Linked DNA regions of Homo sapiens: all the other regions are linked to region 3. The links come from fine-mapping of genetic effects on gene expression. A gene starts in region 3. Each other region holds a variant in brackets. All regions are shown on one strand. Distances are between the middles of the regions. Region 1 has its middle 50 kb from the start of SNORD93. Region 2 has its middle 21 kb from the start of HYCC1. Region 3 holds the start of HYCC1 (hyccin PI4KA lipid kinase complex subunit 1).

Region 1 (5,000 bases), 110 kb before region 3:
TAGTAATTGAAACCTTAAAAAAATATGTTTTTAGGGCCGGGCATGGTGGCTCATGCCTGTAATCCCAGCACTTTGGAAGGCCAAGGCGGGCGGATCACGAGGTCAGGAGATCGAGACCATCTTGGCTAACACAGTGAAACCCCATCTCTACTAAAAGTACAAAAACTTAGCCGGGCGTGGTGGCAGGTGCCTGTAGTCTCAGCTACTTGGGAGGCTGAGGCAGGAGAATGGCATGAATCCAGGAGGCGGAGCTTGTAGTGAGCTGAGATCGTGCCACTGCACTCCAGCCTGGGCAACAGAGCGAGACTCTGTCTCAAAAAAAAAAAAAAAGTAATAATAATAATAATATATATATGTCTTTGGTAACCCATAGCACTTATTCCTGGAAAGCAAAGTGAAGTAAAACATAATTCATCATGCTTTCAACAGAATAAAGGTATAAGTCACATTTTAAAGGAAAATATTTTATACAAGTCACCATCTGTGTTAGACCATTCTTGCATTACTATAAAGAAATAACTGAGTCTGGGTAAGTTATAAAGAAAAGAGGTTTAGGGCCAGGCATGGTGGCTCATGACAGCACTTTGGGAGGTCGAGGTGGGCAGATCACTTGAGGCCAGGAGTTTGAGACCAGCCTGGCCAACATGGTGAAACCCTGTCTCTACTAAAAATCCAAAAATTAGACAGGTGTGGTGGTATGCACCTGTAGTCCCAGCTACTCAGGAGGCTGAGGTGACAGAGGGAGACTTTGTCTCAAAAAAAAAAAAAAAAGAAAGAAAAGAGGTTTAATTGGCTCATGGTTCTGCAGGCTATACAGGAAGCATGGTGCTGGCATCCACAAGACTCCTGGTGAGGGCCTCAGGGAGGTTACAATCGTGGTAGAAGGAGAAAGGGAGTAGAGTATCACACAGCAAGAAAGGGAACAAGAGAGAGAAGGAGGGAGGGGCCACACAGTTTTAAAAAACCAGATCTTTTGTGAACTCACTTACCACCAAAGGGTTGGCACTAAGCCATTCATGACAGATCCACCCCCGTGATCCAAACACCACCCACCAGGCCCACCTCCAACACTGGGGATTACATTTCTTTTTTCTTTTTTTCTTTTTGTTGAAACAGAGTGTTGCTGTGTTGCCCAGGCTGGAGTGCAGTGGTGATCTTGGCTCACTGCAACCTCCACCTCCCAGGTTCAAGCGATTCTCCTGTCTCAGCCTCCCAAGTAGTGAGTAGCTGGGATTTAGAGGCACGCACCAGGATACCCGGCTAATTTTGTATTTTTTTTTTTTTTTTTTTTTTTTTTTTAGTAGAGACAGTGTTTCTCCTTGTTGGCCGGGCTAGTCTTGAACTCTTGACCTCAAGTGATCTACCCGCCTCAGCCTCCCAAAGTGTTGAGATTACAGGCATGAGCCACCGATTTGAAGGGGACAAATATACAAACCATGTCACCATCTTTACTTAATTTCTTCTCATAAGGATTTAATAATATAATTAAAGAAAATTTGCTAAGAAGGAAAAAAGTGCTATTATCATCCTGTAAGTTTTTATTTTTATATAATTCTTTTCAATTTTTCCTGAAATGCAGTTATATTTATACATGGCATCATGCATTCTGGTTTTTCACATAGAATATAAAATGTTTTATGTCTACATAAGTTGTTTGATAAAAATGAAATATATTAAGTTACGGAGGATTTCTTTAACACAATTTATAATTTTGCAATCTATTTACAGGAGGATACAAAACTCTAATAGAGGAAAAATAAATTTATGAAGACATGTGCCTTATTGTTGTGTGAGAAGATGAAGTAAAATATTAATATGTTCATTAAGTTAGATTACATTAAGTACCAGTTACAGTCTCCAGCCCACCCTCTTGACAAGTTTATAGTGTAATTCATCTGGAAAGATTAGTAAGACTATCATACAGTGCCATTACTGATGATCATGATGGTGATAATGATAATGATGATGATGATTAGTAGTTATAATAATATAGTCATCTGAATGCGGCAATTTTTTTTCCAGAACAGCATTGATACTTGCTAACTCAGATCAATTAATATTTCCATCTCCACTGACTGATGTATTAAATTTGAAAGTTATTCTAAAGAGGTGGCATTAAACATTAAAAACTATTCTAAAAGCTAGAAAAAAATGGACTCGTGTATTTATCTCAGCTATGAAAGAATGATACATGACTCAAACCTGTAATCTCAGCACTTTGGGAGACCAAGGCAGGCGGATCACCTGAGCTCAGGAGTTCGAGACCAGCCTGGCCAACATGGTGAAACCCCACGTCTACTAAAAATACAAAAATCAGCCGAGCATGGTAGCGTGTGTGTGTAATCCCAGCTACTTGGGAGGCTGAGGCACGAGAATCACTTGAACCTAGGAGGCTGAGGTTGCAGTGAGCCAAGATCGCGCCACTGCAATCCAGCCTGGGTGACAGAGTGAGACTCGGTCTCAAAAAAAAAAAAAGAATGATACATGACAAAATGGAGGCCATTTTCAGATATACATAAAATATACTAGTATAAAATATTAAAAGTAACAAAAGAAAGATAAATATGTAATATAGTACTAATAAAAGACAATTTTAAATATATAAGGTTAGTACCTGATTCTGCCTGACTTACAGCCAAGGTGGACAAACCACTTACGCATGCAGACTTAAAGACATCAAATTACCAAAATGAAAAATACACACCTGGCTGGGTTTCTTTAATACATGTACAATCTAGGGCACAATTACACATCTATTAAAAATTGAAAAAGAATTAAAAGCCCAAGATTGGAAGCACTCATTTGCAGAAGTTGGGGTTGGAAGGTGGGAATACAAAAAATTAGCTGGGCATGGGGGCGGGCACTTGTAATCCCAGCTACTCGGGAGGCTGAGGAAGGAGAATCACTTGAGCTTGGGAGGCAGAGGTTGCAGTAAGCCGAGATCGTGCCACTGCACTCCAGCCTGGGTGACAGAGTGAGACTCTATCT[CAA/C]AAAAAAAAAAAAAAAAAAAAAAAAAGCAATGGTTCTTCTAGTGTACAAGTCAATCACCTGGCCCAGGCTGGTTCGGGCCTTCACAAAAGAATAACGGTATCTAGGAGTGGTGTGAAAACTTTCCCTTTCTCCTTACTTAGTTCAACTAAGATGCCTGGATTTTTAAAAATAAACCTTTATTAAGAAACAAAGGTAACAATGAAGCAAAAAAGTATTGGCACCTGGTGGGGTCTAGCCAAAAACTGGCTGAGGCTGGCTGGCACGTTACCTTAGCCTGTCCAGGCAACCTCATCACGGAATCCCTCAGCCCCTTCTGGTCCCTGGAATCTAGGAGATCTGTTAGGAGAGTGAACAACTATTCAAACACCATTTATTGAGAACCTTTTAGGTATTAGAGACTTCAATGAGCCAAATATTTTCCTGGTGCTTATCTAAACAAATAATCATAAGGAAGTGTGCAAAATATTTTGAAGGATTCATAGGTAGATGCAGACTGACATGCTTATTAAAATGCAGATTTCAGCTGGGTGCGGGGGCCCACCCCTGTAATCCCAGCACTTTGGGAGGCCGAGGCGGGTGGATCACTTGATGTCAGGAGTTTGAGACCAGCCTGGCCAACATGGTGAAACCCCGTCTCTACTAAAAAAATACAAAAGTTAGCTGGGCGTGGTGGCGCATGCTCATAGTCCCAGCTGCCCAGGAGGCTGAGGCAGGAGAATCGCTTGAACCCGGGAGGCGGAAGTTGCAGTGAGCTGAGATCACACCACTGCTCTCCAGCCTGAGCAACAGAACAAGAGCCTGTCTCAAAAATAAATAAATAAATATGCAGATTTTTATGCTTCTTTCCCACTACCACCCCCACTCTCCCATTTGCTGACCCATAATCTATTATTAGGAATGAGAAATCTTCCCAGAAGGTTCTCATGCAGGCAGTCTGAGGGCTGCCCTCAAGCAAAAAGTGGACTTAAAGGAGGATTAAGACCTCTCTTGCCTCCAAATTTTCTGAGTTTATAATTTTGTTTTAGTAGACTAAAACATAAGAAGAGCTTAAGTGATGAAAAATAGGGAAATGCACAAGGCATAGTTCCATACAATGGAGTGGTAAAAAGGTCATTTGACAAATTTCTTTTGGAAGACGTTGGTGCTCTTCTATTTTAGGAGCTAACAAGAGCCCTGGTACCCATAGATTCCTTTTTAGTCTGACTTCCACTATATACTCAATTTAAGTAGCTTGCTTTGGTTACATTTTCTTGTATGGCACTGTTGTGAAACACATGCTCTAATGTTCCAGCACACAGACACGATTTGGCATTTCTTTTGCTTGTGATTTTGGTTTTATTATGCCTCTATTCTGGTCTTCCAGGCATTATGTGGAGAGGTAATGTTGAAAACCACATTCTCCAAATAGAGCTGTTAATTCCATGCATCTTTGATCTACATCTTCTGTTACTTGCATTTACTCCCCCTCCATTTGTCACCCCATCAGTGATTCTCCATCTGACCCTGAACACCTTTCCAGCCTCTAATAAAATCTGCACTCCAGTCAGACTGGACTCCTTATACCTTGTGTAGTAAAGAATTAAGTGTACCCAAAGAGAGGTCTGGCCTTTACTCTCAGCTCCTAAAAGGTCATCTGTAAGCCCTTGAAATGTCTTGACTGATAAGAATGACTTTGTTTACCTGGGGGCCTTGGGCCACACTGGGTAGTCTAAGAGTGTGATTTATTGTGGGGGTTTGGTACTATGCAGTATCAGCTTGACCTCCAGAGGGGCTACAGCCTAAAAGCCAGTTATGCAGGCAGTCAACTGTATTGATGTGACTGAGCCCCAATAAAAACTCTGTGCATTAAGGCTCAGATGAGCTTTCCTGGTTGATAATACTCTAGGTGGACTGTCTCCCATTATTGCTGGGAGAAGTTAACATGGTCCATGACCATGCTGGGAGAGGACAACTAGAAACCACACATGGACTTCTCCTGGGCTCTGCCTGATATGGGTTGAATCTGTGTC
Region 2 (7,077 bases), 21 kb after region 3:
CTCTGCCTCCCGGGTTCACACCATTCTCCTGCATCAGCCTCCCAAGCAGCTGGGACTACAGGCGCCCACCACCACACACGGCTAATTTTTTTTTTTTTTTTTTTTTTGTATTTTTAGTAGAGATGGGGTTTCACCGTGTTAGCCAGGATGGTCTCGATCTCCTGACCTCGTGATCCGCCCGCCTCGGCCTCCCAAGTACTGGGATTACAGGCATGAGCCACCGCGCCCAGCCTTGTATTTTTTTTAGTAGAGACGAGGTTTCTCCATGTTGGTCAGGCTGGTCTAGAACTCCCTCCCGACCTCAGGCAATCCACCCGCCTCGGCCTCCCAAAGTGCTGGAATTACAGGCGTAAGCCACCGCGCCCGGCCTAAGCAGAGCCTTTTCTAATGGTTGAAAAATGAAGCAAACTTTACAGTGTGCTCCCACTCTCTTATCTGCTGTACCCCTGTCTCCAAATCAGGTCTCAACAAATATCTCAAGGGATCTGAAAAGGGATACCCAGTTATGAAAGGGCAACCTATGGCCTGAAAGGAATGTGTGGAGTGAAGGAGCATAGTTTTGACAACTTTGCTTTGGTGATTTTGGGAAGTGGTTGTGGGCAATTGGCATATGAATCTTGTTTTTTGTTGAAAACAAAACAAAAGAGGAAAAGGCTGGCTGATAGCTGGTTGTCTCTTTGGCCACCCCTGAGGCTCAACCACTGGTTTTTTTATGTACTGGGTCCCCATTCAGGGTCTGGAACTTTGATTCATCTTTGTGATCATCATACAAAAGAGAGCTTGGATGCAGGTGGCTAAAAGCTGCAGGATGCATAAATGCTTCTATGCCTTTTAACAACCCCATGGGTAATTTTTTTTTTTTTTTTTTTGAGACGGAGTCTCTCTCTGTCACCCGGGCTGGGGTGCAGTGGAGCGATCTCGGCTCACTGCAACCTCTGCCTTCTGGGTTCAAGCAATTCTCCTGCCTCAGCCTCCCAAGTAGCTGGGACTACAGTTGTGCGCCACTATGCCCAGCTAATTTTTGTATTTTTAGTAGAGAAGGGATTTCACCATGTTGGTTAGCCAGGATGGTCTCGATCTCTTGACCTCGTGATTCTCCCTCCTCGGCCTCCCAAAATGCTGGGATTACAGGCGTGAGCCACCGCACCTGGATGGGTAATTTTATTATTTTACAAGTCAGTAAACCGATGCTTAGAGAAGTTAACCAACTTGATCAAGGTCACACAGCGGTGGAGAAGAGATTCCACCCCATACTTTTTGGGCTCCAGAGAACATAAGCTTTCCACTACGTTAGCTTATCCTGAGAGAAAGGGGTTTTGGTTGGAGGGTGAGGTAGAGAATGACCAATTTTGGAGAAGGTGTGAATTTGGAGTCGGACCAGTCCTAAATAAGTGTTCTAGAAGGGAACTCTAGGAAGACAGGGAAACATGGACCCCAGCCACAGTGGATCTGGGAAAGAACTAAAGGGAGAGGGAGGGCATTAGAGACAAGCATTACCTGCTTCAAAAACTTGAGCACCATTAAATGGATTTTGACATCCAGGCATGACTTGGTGTTGTGTAGAAAATAAATAGATGCAGCTCTTATATTTTTAATCATGTGACATTTTAATCTCATAGATCTACATTCAAATTCTGGGCTCATTAAGTCTTTAATTTGTTTTTGAAGCAGTTGTAATTGAAACGAACTGGGGTCCACTAGCCTGGCACAGTAAGGCCAAAAATCTATACCAAGGTTTGTAGCCAGACAAAGGATGTTTATTTGCGGGGCACCAAGCAAGGAGAATCAGGCAACTCACACTTAAGACCCTGTCTCCCCAGTGGCTTGCAAGTAAGGGTTTTTGTTTGTTTGCTTGTTTGTTTTTGAGATGGAGTCTCACTCTGTCACCCAGGCTGGAATGCAGTGGCATGATTTCGGCTCACTGCAACCCCCACCTCCCCGGTTCAAGCGATTCTCCTGCGTCAGCCTCCTGAGTAGCTGGGAATACAGACGTGCACCACCACACCAGCTAATTTTTGTATTTTTAGTAGAGACAGGGTTTCACTGTGTTAGCCAGGATGATCTCGATCCCCTGACCTCGTGATCCGCCCGCCTTGGCCTCCCAAAGTGCTGGGATTATAGGCATGAGCCACCACGCCTAGCCACAGGTTAAGAGTTTTTAAAGGCAGGGGTAAATTTCAGGAAACCAGAAGTTATAGGCAACAATTATAAATTAATATATGAAGGTTATATATTGGTTTGACGTAAAAAGGATAGAACATCTTGATGTGGGGGCTTACAGGTCCTAAGGAGATTTTAAGATTTTCTGATTTGCAATTAGTTAAGGAAAAGAAGCTCTATTTAAAATTTTGGGTCAACACCATGATTGTATATTTAGAAAACCCCATAGTCTCAGCCCAAAATCTCCTTAAGCTGACAAGCAACTTCAGCAAAGTCTCAGGATACAAAAAAATCAATGTGCAAAAATCACAAGCATTCTTATACACCAATAATAGACAAACAGAGAGCCAAATCATTAGTGAACTCCCATTCATAACTGCTTCAAAGAGAATAAAATACCTAGGAATCCAACTTACAAGGGACGTGAAGGATCTCTTCAAGGAGAACTACAAACCACTGTTCAACGAAATAAAAGAGGATACAAACAAATAGAAGAACATTCCATGCTCATGGATAGGAAGAATCAATATTGTGAAAATGGCCATACTGTCCAAGGTAATTTAAAGATTCAATGCCATCCCCATAAAACTACCAATGACTTTCTTAACAGCATTGGAAAAAACTACTTTAAAGTTCATATAGAACCAAAAAAGAGCCTGCATTGCCAAGACAATCCTAAGCCAAAAGAACAAAGCTGGAGGCATCATGCTACCTGACTTCAAACTATACTACAAGGCTA[C/T]AGTAACCAAAATAGCATGGTACTGGTACCAAAACAGAGATATAGACCAATGGAACAGAACAGAGCCCTCAGAAATAATACCACACATCTACAACCATCTGATCTTTGACAAACCTGACAACAACAAGAAATGGGGAAAGGATTCCCTATTTAATAAATGGTGCTGGGAAAACTGGCTAGCCATAGGTAGAAACCTAAAATTGGATCCCTTCCTTATACCTTATACAAAAATTAATTCAAGATGGATTAAAGACTTAAATGTTAGACCTGAAACCATAAAAACTCTAGAAGAAAACCTAGCTATTACCATTCAGGACATAGCCATGGGCAAGGACTTCATGTCTAAAACACCAAAAGCAATGGCAGCAAAAGCCAAAATTGACAAATGGGATCTAATTAAACTAAAGAGCTTCTGCACAGCAAAAGAAACTACCATCAGAGTGAACAGGCAACCTACAACATGGGAGAAAATTTTCGCAACCTACTCATCTGACAAAGGGCTAATATCCAGAATCTACAAAGAACTCAAACAAATTTACAAGAAAAAAACAAACAACTTCATCAAAAAGTGGGCCAAGGATATGAACAGACACTTCTCAAAAGAAGACATTTATGCAGCCAACAGACACATGAAAAAATGCTCATCATCACTGGCCATCAGAGAAATGCAAATCAAAACCACAATGAGATACCATCCCACACCAGTGAGAATGGTGATCATTAAAAAGTCAGGAAACAACAGGTGCTGGACAAGATGTGGAGAAATAGGAACACTTTTACACTGTTGGTGGGGCTGTAAACTAGTTCAACCATTGTGGAAGACAGCGTGGCGATTCCTCAAGGATCTAGAACTAGAAATACCGTTTGACCCAGCCATCCCATTACTGGGTATATAGCCAAAGGATTATAAATCATGCTGCTATAAAGACACATACACATGTATGTTTATTGCAGCACTATTCACAATAGCAAAGACTTGGAACCACCCCAAATGTCCATCAATGATAGACTGGTTTAAGAAAATGTGGCACGGAAATAGAGCCAAGATGGCTGAATAGGAACAGCTCCGGTCTACAGCTCCCAGCGTGAGCGACGCAGAAGACGGGTGATTTCTGCATTTCCATCTGAGGTACCGGGTTCATCTCACTAGGGAGTGCCAGACAGTGGGCGCAGGCCAGTGGGTGCGCGCACCGGGCGTGAGCCAAAGCAGGGCGAGGCATTGCCTCACCTGGGAAGCGCAAGGGGTCAGGGAGTTCCCTTTCCGAGTCAAAGAAAGGGGTGACGGACGCACCTGGAAAATCGGGTCACTCCCACCCGAATATTGCGCTTTTCAGACTGGCTTAAAAAACGGCGCACCACGAGACTATATCCCACACCTGGCTCGGAGGGTCCTACGCCCCCGGAATCTCGCTGATTGCTAGCACAGCAGTCTGAGATCAAACTGCAAGGCGGCAGCGAGGCTGGGGGAGGGGCGCCCGCCATTGCCCAGGCTTGCTTAGGTAAACAAAGCAGCCGGGAAGCTCGAACTGGGTGGAGCCCACCACAGCTCAAGGAGGCCTGCCTGCCTCTGTAGGCTCCACCTCTGGGGGCAGGGCACAGACAGACAAAAAGGCAGCAGTAACCTCTGCAGACTTAAATGTCCCTGTCTGACAGCTTTGAAGAGAGCAGTGGTTCTCCTAGCACGCAGCTGGAGATCTGAGAATGGGCAGACTGCCTCCTCAAGTGGGTCCCTGACCCCTGACCCCCGAGCAGCCTAACTGGGAGGCACCCCCCAGCAGGGGCACACTGACACCTCACACGGCAGGGTATTCCAACAGACCTGCAGGTGAGGGTCCTGTCTGTTAGAAGGAAAACTAACAAACAGAAAGGACATCCACACCGAAAACCCATCTGTACATCACCATCATCAAAGACCAAAAGTAGATAAAACCACAAAGATGGGGAAAAAACAGAACAGAAAAACTGGAAACTCTAAAACGCAGAGCGCCCCTCCTCCTCCAAAGGAACGCAGTTCCTCACCAGCAACGGAACAAAGCTGGATGGAGAATGACTTTGACGAGCTGAGAGAAGAAGGCTTCAGACGATCAAATTACTCTGAGCTACGGGAGGACATTCAAACCAAAGGCAAAGAAGTTGAAAACTTTGAAAAAAATTTAGAAGAATGTATAACTAGAATAACCAATACAGAGAAGTGCTTAAAGGAGCTGATGGAGCTGAAAACCAAGGCTCGAGAACTACGTGAAGAATGCAGAAGCCTCAGGAGCCGATGTGATCAACTGGAAGAAAGGGTATCAGCAATGGAAGATGAAATGAATGAAATGAAGCAAGAAGGGAAGGTTAGAGAAAAAAGAATAAAAAGAAATGAGCAAAGCCTCCAAGAAATATGGGACTATGTGAAGAGACCAAATCTACGTCTGATTGGTGTACCTGAAAGTGATGCGGAGAATGGAACCAAGTTGGAAAACACTCTACAGGATATTATCCAGGAGAACTTCCCCAATCTAGCAAGGCAGGCCAACGTTCAGATTCAGGAAATACAGAGAACGCCACAAAGATACTCCTCGAGAAGAGCAACTCCAAGACACATAATTGTCAGATTCACCAAAGTTGAAATGAAGGAAAAAATGTTAAGGGCAGCCAGAGAGAAAGGTCGGGTTACCCTCAAAGGGAAGCCCATCAGACTAACAGCGGATCTCTCGGCAGAAACCCTACAAGCCAGAAGAGAGTGGGGGCCAATATTCAACATTCTTAAAGAAAAGAATTTTCAACCCAGAGTTTCATATCCAGCCAAACTAAGCTTCATAAGTGAAGGAGAAATAAAATACTTTACAGACAAGCAAATGCCGAGAGATTTTGTCACCACTAGGCCTGCCCTAAAAGAGCTCCTGAAGGAAGCGCTAAACATGGAAAGGAACAACCGGTACCAGCCGCTGCAAAATCATGCCAAAATGTAAAGACCATCGAGACTAGGAAGAAACTGCATCAACTAACGAGCAAAATCATCAGCTAACATCATCATGACAGGATCAAATTCACACATAACAATATTAACTTTAAATGTAAATGGACTAAATGCTCCAATTAAAAGACACAGACTGGCAAGTTGGATAAAGACTCAAGACCCATCAGTGTGCTGTATTCAGGAAACCCATCTCACATGCAGAGACACACATAGGCTCAAAATAAAAGGATGGAGGAAGATCTACCAAGCAAATGGAAAACAAAAAAAGGCAGGGGTTGCAATCCTAGTCTCTGATAAAACAGACTTTAAACCAACAAAGATCAAAAGAGACAAAGAAGGCCATTACATAATGGTAAAGGGATCAATTCAACAAGAGGAGCTAACTATCCTAAATATATATGCACCCAATACAGGAGCACCCAGATTCATAAAGCAAGTCCTGAGTGACCTACAAAGAGACTTAGACTCCCACACATTAATAATGGGAGACTTTAACACCCCACTGTCAACATTAGACAGATCAACGAGACAGAAAGTCAACAAGGATACCCAGGAATTGAACTCAGCTCTGTACCAAGAAGACCTAATAGACATCTACAGAACTCTCCACCCCAAATCAACAGAATATACATTCTTTTCAGCACCACACCACACCTATTCCAAAATTGACCACATAGTTGGAAGTAAAGCTCTCCTCAGCAAATGTAAAAGAACAGAAATTATAACAAACTATCTCTCAGACCACAGTGCAATCAAACTAGAACTCAGGATTAAGAATCTCACTCAAAGCCGCTCAACTACATGGAAACTGAACAACCTGCTCCTGAATGACTACTGGGTACATAACGAAATGAAGGCAGAAATAAAGATGTTCTTTGAAACCAACGAGAACAAAGACACAACATACCAGAATCTCTGGGACGCATTCAAAGCAGTGTGTAGAGGGAAATTTATAGCACTGAATGCCCACAAGAGAAAGCAGGAAAGATCTAAAATTGACACCCTCACATCACAATTAAAAGAACTAGAAAAGCAAGAGCAAACACATTCAAAAGCTAGCAGAAGGCAAGAAATAACTAAAATCAGAGCAGAATTGAAGGAAATAGAGACACAAAAAACCCTTCAAAAAATCAATGAATCCAGGAGCTGGTTTTTTGAAAGGATCAACAAAATTGATAGACCGCTAGCAAGACTAATAAAGAAAAAAAGAGAGAAG
Region 3 (7,077 bases):
CCCCCCCACACCAAATTGGTATAGGGATTCCCTCTGGAAAACAAAATTCTTTAAAGTTCCTGAGATTATTGTAAATTATTATTACATTATTGTAAATGCACAGCCAAGATTGAGAACCACTACTCAATGAAAGCTATAGCTATCATTTTCTCCCTTCTTTATTTCAGTTCTCTTGAAAAGTCTCACTTAAGCATGTCTACTTTATCACACCCATTCTTTCTCAATCTTCTGAAGCCTGGTTTCTGAACCACCACTCAGTTAAAACTGTTCTTGTTAAAGTTACCTATGGACTCCTGACAAATTCAGTGGTCACTGGGGCCCTCTCCTAACTTGACACCTCCTTACAGCATTCAAAATTGTTAACCTGTTCCTCCTCCACTGGAAAATCTCCCCGCCCTTGGCATCTTTCCTGATGGTCCTCCTACCTTGCTAGCTACTATTCCTCTAACTTTCAGACAATTCTTCTTCCTACTTCTGCTATTTATGAGAGTCTGTTCTCTGGCTGCCACTTTCACCAGGCTAAAGGCTTTCCCTGAGTCATTTCATCACAACTAAATCAATATAGCTTCAATTCAACCCCCAATCATCTCTCTAATCCTGATTTTCACATCCACAGATACAAACATCTATCTATATCTTCGCCTGAAGTTCCACTGCTTCCTCAAATTCAAAATAGCCAAAACAGAATTTATCATCTTCCTTCCATTTTTGTGTTCCTCATTTCCATCAACAGAACCCCAAGTCAAACCTTCACAGTCCTGAGTCCTCCTTTCTTCTCATAGGTGATTAGGACTTGTTAGTTTTTCCCTCACTCTGCCACAGTAAAGGTCTAAAATACAAATCCAATAAATGGCTTCTCATCTATCACGTTCAATCCAATCCCTTTAGCTAAGGATACCATTCCCTGATCTGGCCCTCTACCACCCTCACTATCTTCATCTGGCACCATTTCCTACTAACCCCTGCATTCAAGCCATATCAATGTCAATGTTATTGACTTTGTCAACTGCCAATGTCAATTGACACTGACTCGTCATTGTCAATGACTTATCTAAATTGCCACAGTTTCTCAGGCCTCCTTGCCTTCTCAATTACTATATCCTCCTCTTGGGAAGTTACTTACCTCCTGCACTTGGCAAAATCATATCATCCTTCACAACTTGGCTGTGTGCTCCCAACTCCACCTACACTCAAGGCAAGTTAACTATCTCCTACTCTAAACTCTCCTACTACACTAGGCATATCTCTATTCCCACTGACTACATAGTATTATAATTGTTAATTTACTGTAATGTTACTAACATCTTGTATGTTAGATAGTAAATTCCTTGAAGACAAGAGCTATGACATTCATTTCTGTATCCCTAGTACCTACTCAGCCTGGAAGAGTGAAAAAATAAATTTATGTTTGATATAATTTCAATCATTTATAAAATATAAACGATACCCCAAAATAGGTCTTGAATACTAAGATTTCTTAAAATTTCTTAAGATCCATTATAAAATAAATATTAGGCAACAGGATGCTGAATAAAACAGTACATATATTTAAACTCACCGTCAAAGACACCAGTCTAAAAAATACAACCCAGAGCAAATTTCATAAAACAGAAATACAACAATGAAAGGAAGCAGAGCAAGGATAAACGCTGACCCAGCTAATGCCTTATCGGGTGTCTGTATCCAGGTACTGCTAATGCCGATGACTAAGAAGGTTTCTAATCCTTCTAATCCCTCATGGTAATTTCAATAAATCGAATAAGGATAAACGAGCCAAATCCAGAATTTGTTTCCTAAATATGTGATGCTTTTCCCCCTTGCCACTTGGTTTGATTGAACTGATTATTTGAATAGCTGACTTTGAAGCCACTATTGGCCAAGCAGATCTTAAATGTTTTTCCTTCCTTGTCTTTGCCTGCACTTCAAAAATATGGTGGTTTAGACTACTATTCATCCTGTAAACCTTAAAATGTATTCACCTAAAGAAAAAAAAATACTTGGAAATGTCGGGGGAGGTGGGGTGCCTGTGGATGTTAGCAGTAGAATGTTTTCATGGAAAACAAGCCTCCCAGTCTTTCTGACTTTATGGCAATAAGATTTGAAAGCTGAAAACCTCAAACTGTAAAGTGTTACATGAACCAAAGAGGTGGCCCACCTGCTCCAAAAACTACTGTGTGATCCAAGGATAAATAATTTGCAAAAGGTCAGCTTGGCCCTACTGCCTGTAGGGCAGTCTCTGAGATAAGAAGTAGCTGCCGGTGGAACAAATTCCCCCTACCTGAAGAGCGCCGCGGCTGCCAGGCTTGTGATAGTGTATTTCTCAGAGAGCAGATTCTGTGCAGTACTAAACCACTTAGGCAAAATTAAAATCTTTCAGGAATGTCTAAACTCACAAAGCACACATGTGCAAGCTGACGGGCAGACAGCAAATTTCGGGGAAGCGTACAAACTTGGGGGTGTTTTAATGCAACCATTTTCAGCCAAACCCCCGAGGATTCCCGAGTATGTTAAAATGAGCCTCAGGAGAGGAATAACTCATAGAAAGAAGGGGCAAGGGCTCAAGAAGAGATCTTCAGCGAAATAACCAAGGAAGGAAGCGTGGCTGCTGTCTGAACCTCTCCGCCCTGCAGGGGACCAAAGACCGACTCGGGCCAACGCTGCTCTCCAGGGGGCGAGGGCGGGGGGTCGACAGTGACCATTGTGGCCACCAGACCGGACGGACAGTGGCGGCCTCGCCGAAGTAGAGGGCGCGAGTGGGAGAGGAGGCAGAGGCCAGAGCATCCGCCGCGGCAGGGAGGGGACGGGGGGCTCCCGCCCCAGGCCCACCCGGCAGAGGGGCGGCCGGTGGGGCCGAGGCGGCGGCACCCGGGTCACAGCAGGAGGCTGGACTGCTCCTCGCCGGGAAGGAAAGACCCGAGTCGCGCGCACAAAGCTGCCGCCCTCCAGGCAGCGGGCAGGCTGCGCCCAACTTCGGGGCGAGCAGCGCCGGCCGCAGCCCACCCGCCCGCCAGCCGCCCCCAGCGCCCCGCGCCGCCTCGCACCCACCCATGGCGCCTCGCGCGGGAGCCGTTACCCCCAGTGGAGCCGCGGCCCCAGGGACAAAGTCCCGGTCCTGTCCTCGCCGCCGCCTCGCCCCGGCTCCTCCCTGACAAAAAAAAGTTATCCGTTGCCGGACGCCCTGGGGGCCCGGCGTGGGTCTCTCGGCTGGACTCACCAGGGCGGCTGCCGGAGCTCCACCTGCAGGACCTCGACTCGTGAGGCTCTCAGCGACAGCGACGGAGGCTGCTCTGCTTCCTCCCGAGTAGCAGCACCACCTGCTCCCCTTCTTCCTAGCAGAACGGGTCCCGGTGAGCCATCTTCCCCCTCCTCTCACTGACTGACAACCCAGCCGGGAGAGCCACCACTGCCGCCAGCCTCTCTGACAGGCACGACCAGGGACCCGTCCTCAAGCAGCCAACCACCACCGCCCCACGCCAGTTCAGCCTATCGCCGTCCTCCGGGGCGGGATCAGAACAACTTCTCCACCAATGAGAATCTTCTTCTGCTGGGCCTGGGGCGGAGCCATGAGGCGCCTTGAGTGGGCGTGGTCTGAGCAATGGGCGTGATCCGGGCGTCCGAGGGAAGTTGATTGACTGTAAGGTTTGCGGTGGCCGCTAGGCGATGACAATCAGCGAAGGTCTCTTAGATTCTGAGCCGTTAGGGCTTATGGCCTTCTCAGAAAAAAATAAACCTTACCGGATGATGTGAAGGGTATCAATTTGTTTCTCTTTTGTGAGAAAAGAGAAACAAATTGATAATTTACTAGTCAGTAGGATTTACTTCCCTGTAATTAAATTCACAAGAATTTATCAAAATCTTATCAAATCCCGGGAGGAAAAAAAAATTACGTTTTTGCAAAATGGAAATACAAACTTCCCCCTCACTACATCATTGCTTTTGGGCTTAGCCTGGAAAAAGTCAAATACGATGCCTCAGTTTTCTTTCCATGGGGGTTGTTTTTATTTTTTCCATCATTCCTCCCTACTTTTTCTCTGAACATATACTAAATGTTTTGTATAATAACTGGAACCCGAGAACACCTGAACCTGCGCCTGCAGACAGTACTGCTGTTTTTGACCTTGTAAACCTCTCCTACCACATCCTTCTCAAGACTGGTCAGGATTAATTAGAAGAAAAACTGACCTCCACCCTAGAAGACAGGAAGTTCATTCTAGCTTTACACTAGAAATGGGCAGGATTTCTCCAGAAACACTAAGTGAACTTTTCAAACATGCTGAACTCATAAATAACAAGCACATAAATAAGAAGATATATTACTTGATATCAAAAGGGTATCAAGCAAACAATTTCAGGTAATTATTAGGGCAGATTGCTAAAACAGATAGGATCCCCCTCCAAAGGGAGGATCAGATTAATGAGTAAATAATAACAAACTACAGTGATAAGGACAATAGAGATTGGTTCAATGAGCAATGGAAACAGAGGACAAGAAATGACTGTTTAGGAAAGTCAGCGAACTCCACAAGGAAGGTAATGTTTGAGTTGGATCTTAAAAGGTAAATGGGAGTTTGCCAGAGAAGAAAGTCAAAGGGTATTTCAGAAAGGGAGAACACCATGTTCAAAGGCATGGAGCTGTGAAAGGGCACAGAGCCATTGTGGAATGTTGAGAAGGTAGATGGGGTTAAATGATGAGGAACGGCCAAAAATTGGGCTGGAGCAAAAGGTTGAGGTGAGATTGTAAAAGACCTCACAAGCTACACTAAGATATTCAGACAAGCACTGTCCAGCAGAGCTTTCTGCACTGGTGAAAATGTTCTATATTTGTGTTGTCCAAAATAGTAGCCATTAGCCACATGTGGCTATCAAATACTTGAAATGTGGTGTGACTGAAGAGCTCAATGTATTTATTTATTTATTTATTTATTTTTGAGACAAGGTCTCACTCTGTCACCCAAACTGGGGTAGAGTGCTTAAGTGATCCTCCCACCTCAGCCTCCCAAAGTGCTGGGATTACAGACATGAACTACCATACACGGCTGAAACTCAATTTTTAATTTTTTTTTTTTTTGGCAGAGTCTCCCTCTGTCACCCAGGCTGGAGTACAGTGGTGGGATCTTACCTCACTGCACTTCCACTTCCCAGGTTCAAGCAATTCTCCTGCCTCAGCCTCCTGAGTAGCTGGGGTTACATGAACTCACCACCACACCCAGCTAATTTTTGTATTTTTTGTAGAGACAGGGGTTCACCATGTTGGCCAGGCTGGTCTCGAACTCCTGACCTCAGGTGCTCCACCCACCTCAGCCTCCCAAAGTGCTGGGATTACAGGTGTGAACCACCATGTCTGGCATTAATTTTTAATTTTAACTTTAACAACTCCCATATTGGATAGCTCAGGTTTAGATTTTCTTCTTAAGGCAATGAGGGACAGACAACAGCTTTTAATCATGTGGACAATGCAATCAGGTTTCTTTTAAATGGTGAGAATCCAAAGAAAAAAAAACAGGGTAGAGAGGAAATTCTTGACAGATCAGACTGACTTAATTTAGGTCCCCTTGGCCAGAGCCTGTTCAGGACAAGTGTTTACTCAAAGAAATAGGGAGAGGAAGATCCAGGCAGCATGTTATTCATCTTAGAGAACACAAGCAGTCAAAACCTGAGACGTTGAATTCTGCCGTCAAGTCCCATTGAGTAGGAGAGTGAGGGACCAAGGAAGGAAAGAAACCGAGTCAGCCAGATCATAAGATAGAGAGAAACAAGAGTGGGCAAAAGAGTGCACACCTACGCGCATGCACACACACACACACACACACACACACACCATCAGTTTTACTGGCCATTGGCCATGTGTGCCAGTAATGTGTTGACCTGATTTGAAGAGCCAAAGTTTCTGGTGGCAGGAAGCCCAGCCAAGACCAGGACAAGATTCCAGGAGAGAATCTCGAACCAAACCTGTGGAAGTCAGGATGGAAGGGACAGGTAAATATTATTGACTTCCTGTACTGTACAAGGCACGTGGCTTGTCAAGGATACAGATGAATGCTAGAAGCTTGCTTATAGTATAGTTAGCTGCATAACAAACAGATGAAAGGTTAAGCAAAGATTAAAGTAATTATTTAATGCAGCAGTGGAGAGATTACATAAGGCAGTACATAATCGATTCATTGTTCAAATGATTTTCTAGGCATTAGCCGCTGTGTTTTCAGAGGAGGATGCAAGCACTGCAGTCAAGGGCAGTCAGGGAAGGCTTCATGAAAAAGGCAAAATGGGCTGGGTCTAGAAAACTGGGGAGGAATTTGAACCAGATAAAATGGTGAGAAAGTAACTCCCAGAATGCCTGGAGAAATAACACAAGAGGGGAAGCACAAGCAATGTTCAGAGGGCATGGGAGGCAACTTGAGTCAGCCAAGCCTGGCAAGCTAGGTTGCAGATAGATAATAGAACACCTTGAAGGCAAGCTCAGTTGTTCAGATTTTCTCCTTTTGCCTTGTGGCTTCCTGTCTGCTCATTAGAATCACTTAGGATGCCTTTCAAAATTATCAGTACTCAAACCGCACCCCACAGTAAATAAATAAATAAATTGGTGTGTGAGGCTAGTCATTGGGTTTTTAAAAAAGCTTCCCAAGTGGTTCTAATATACACCCAAGGTTGACAAAAGGGAAATAATATAACATGTTACTAGTGCCAAATCAGTGCCGTGCATAGGATAGATTGAGTGGAGAGAAACTGAAGTTTGGCTATGTATATTTATATATAATTTGTTTCCTTCCTGCAAGAAGACAGGAAGCAGTTTACTGCCTGACTTCACTTCCCATTTTGCAGTGGTAAGGTAGTATAGAAGGCAATTTAAGTTGTCTTCCCTCTAAGTCAGAGTAAAACGAAAGCACAAATTTATGTTTCCAGTCTACTCTCCTTTCCATCACAATTTGTGCATATAAAAATAATTTCCAACAATAACAGTCTGCAGTTAAGTTTTACACATAGCCGTTTATATTTTAATCGCAAAGCACCAGAAAAAATGCCTAAGAGAACATTCTGTTTCAAAAGGAAAATGCTTTTAACCTACTTTATAAAAGTCAA

What was found. PIP is the estimated chance that this variant, and not a neighbour inherited with it, causes the effect.
Region 1: its variant is the best candidate, but not a certain one, in a credible set for the expression of HYCC1 in Th2 cells (Schmiedel 2018, PIP 0.79).
Region 2: its variant is the best candidate, but not a certain one, in a credible set for the expression of HYCC1 in blood mononuclear cells (TOPMed, PIP 0.60).

What each region holds. Positions count from the first base shown.
Region 1 is chr7:22,904,116-22,909,115 of GRCh38, forward strand. It overlaps a transcript of HYCC1 not described here. Among named protein-coding and RNA genes, the nearest start is that of SNORD93, 50 kb to the left of the region's middle. The variant CAA/C (reference allele first, on the strand shown) is at 2,989.
Region 2 is chr7:23,031,798-23,038,874 of GRCh38, forward strand. No RefSeq gene overlaps it. Among named protein-coding and RNA genes, the nearest start is that of HYCC1, 21 kb to the left of the region's middle. The variant C/T (reference allele first, on the strand shown) is at 2,900.
Region 3 is chr7:23,010,711-23,017,787 of GRCh38, forward strand. HYCC1 (hyccin PI4KA lipid kinase complex subunit 1) reads right to left here and starts at 3,420. Exons shown (of 11, transcript NM_032581.4): 1 at 3,215-3,420. RefSeq lists enhancers at 2,122-2,803, 3,221-3,410, 3,571-3,750 and a silencer at 2,761-3,030.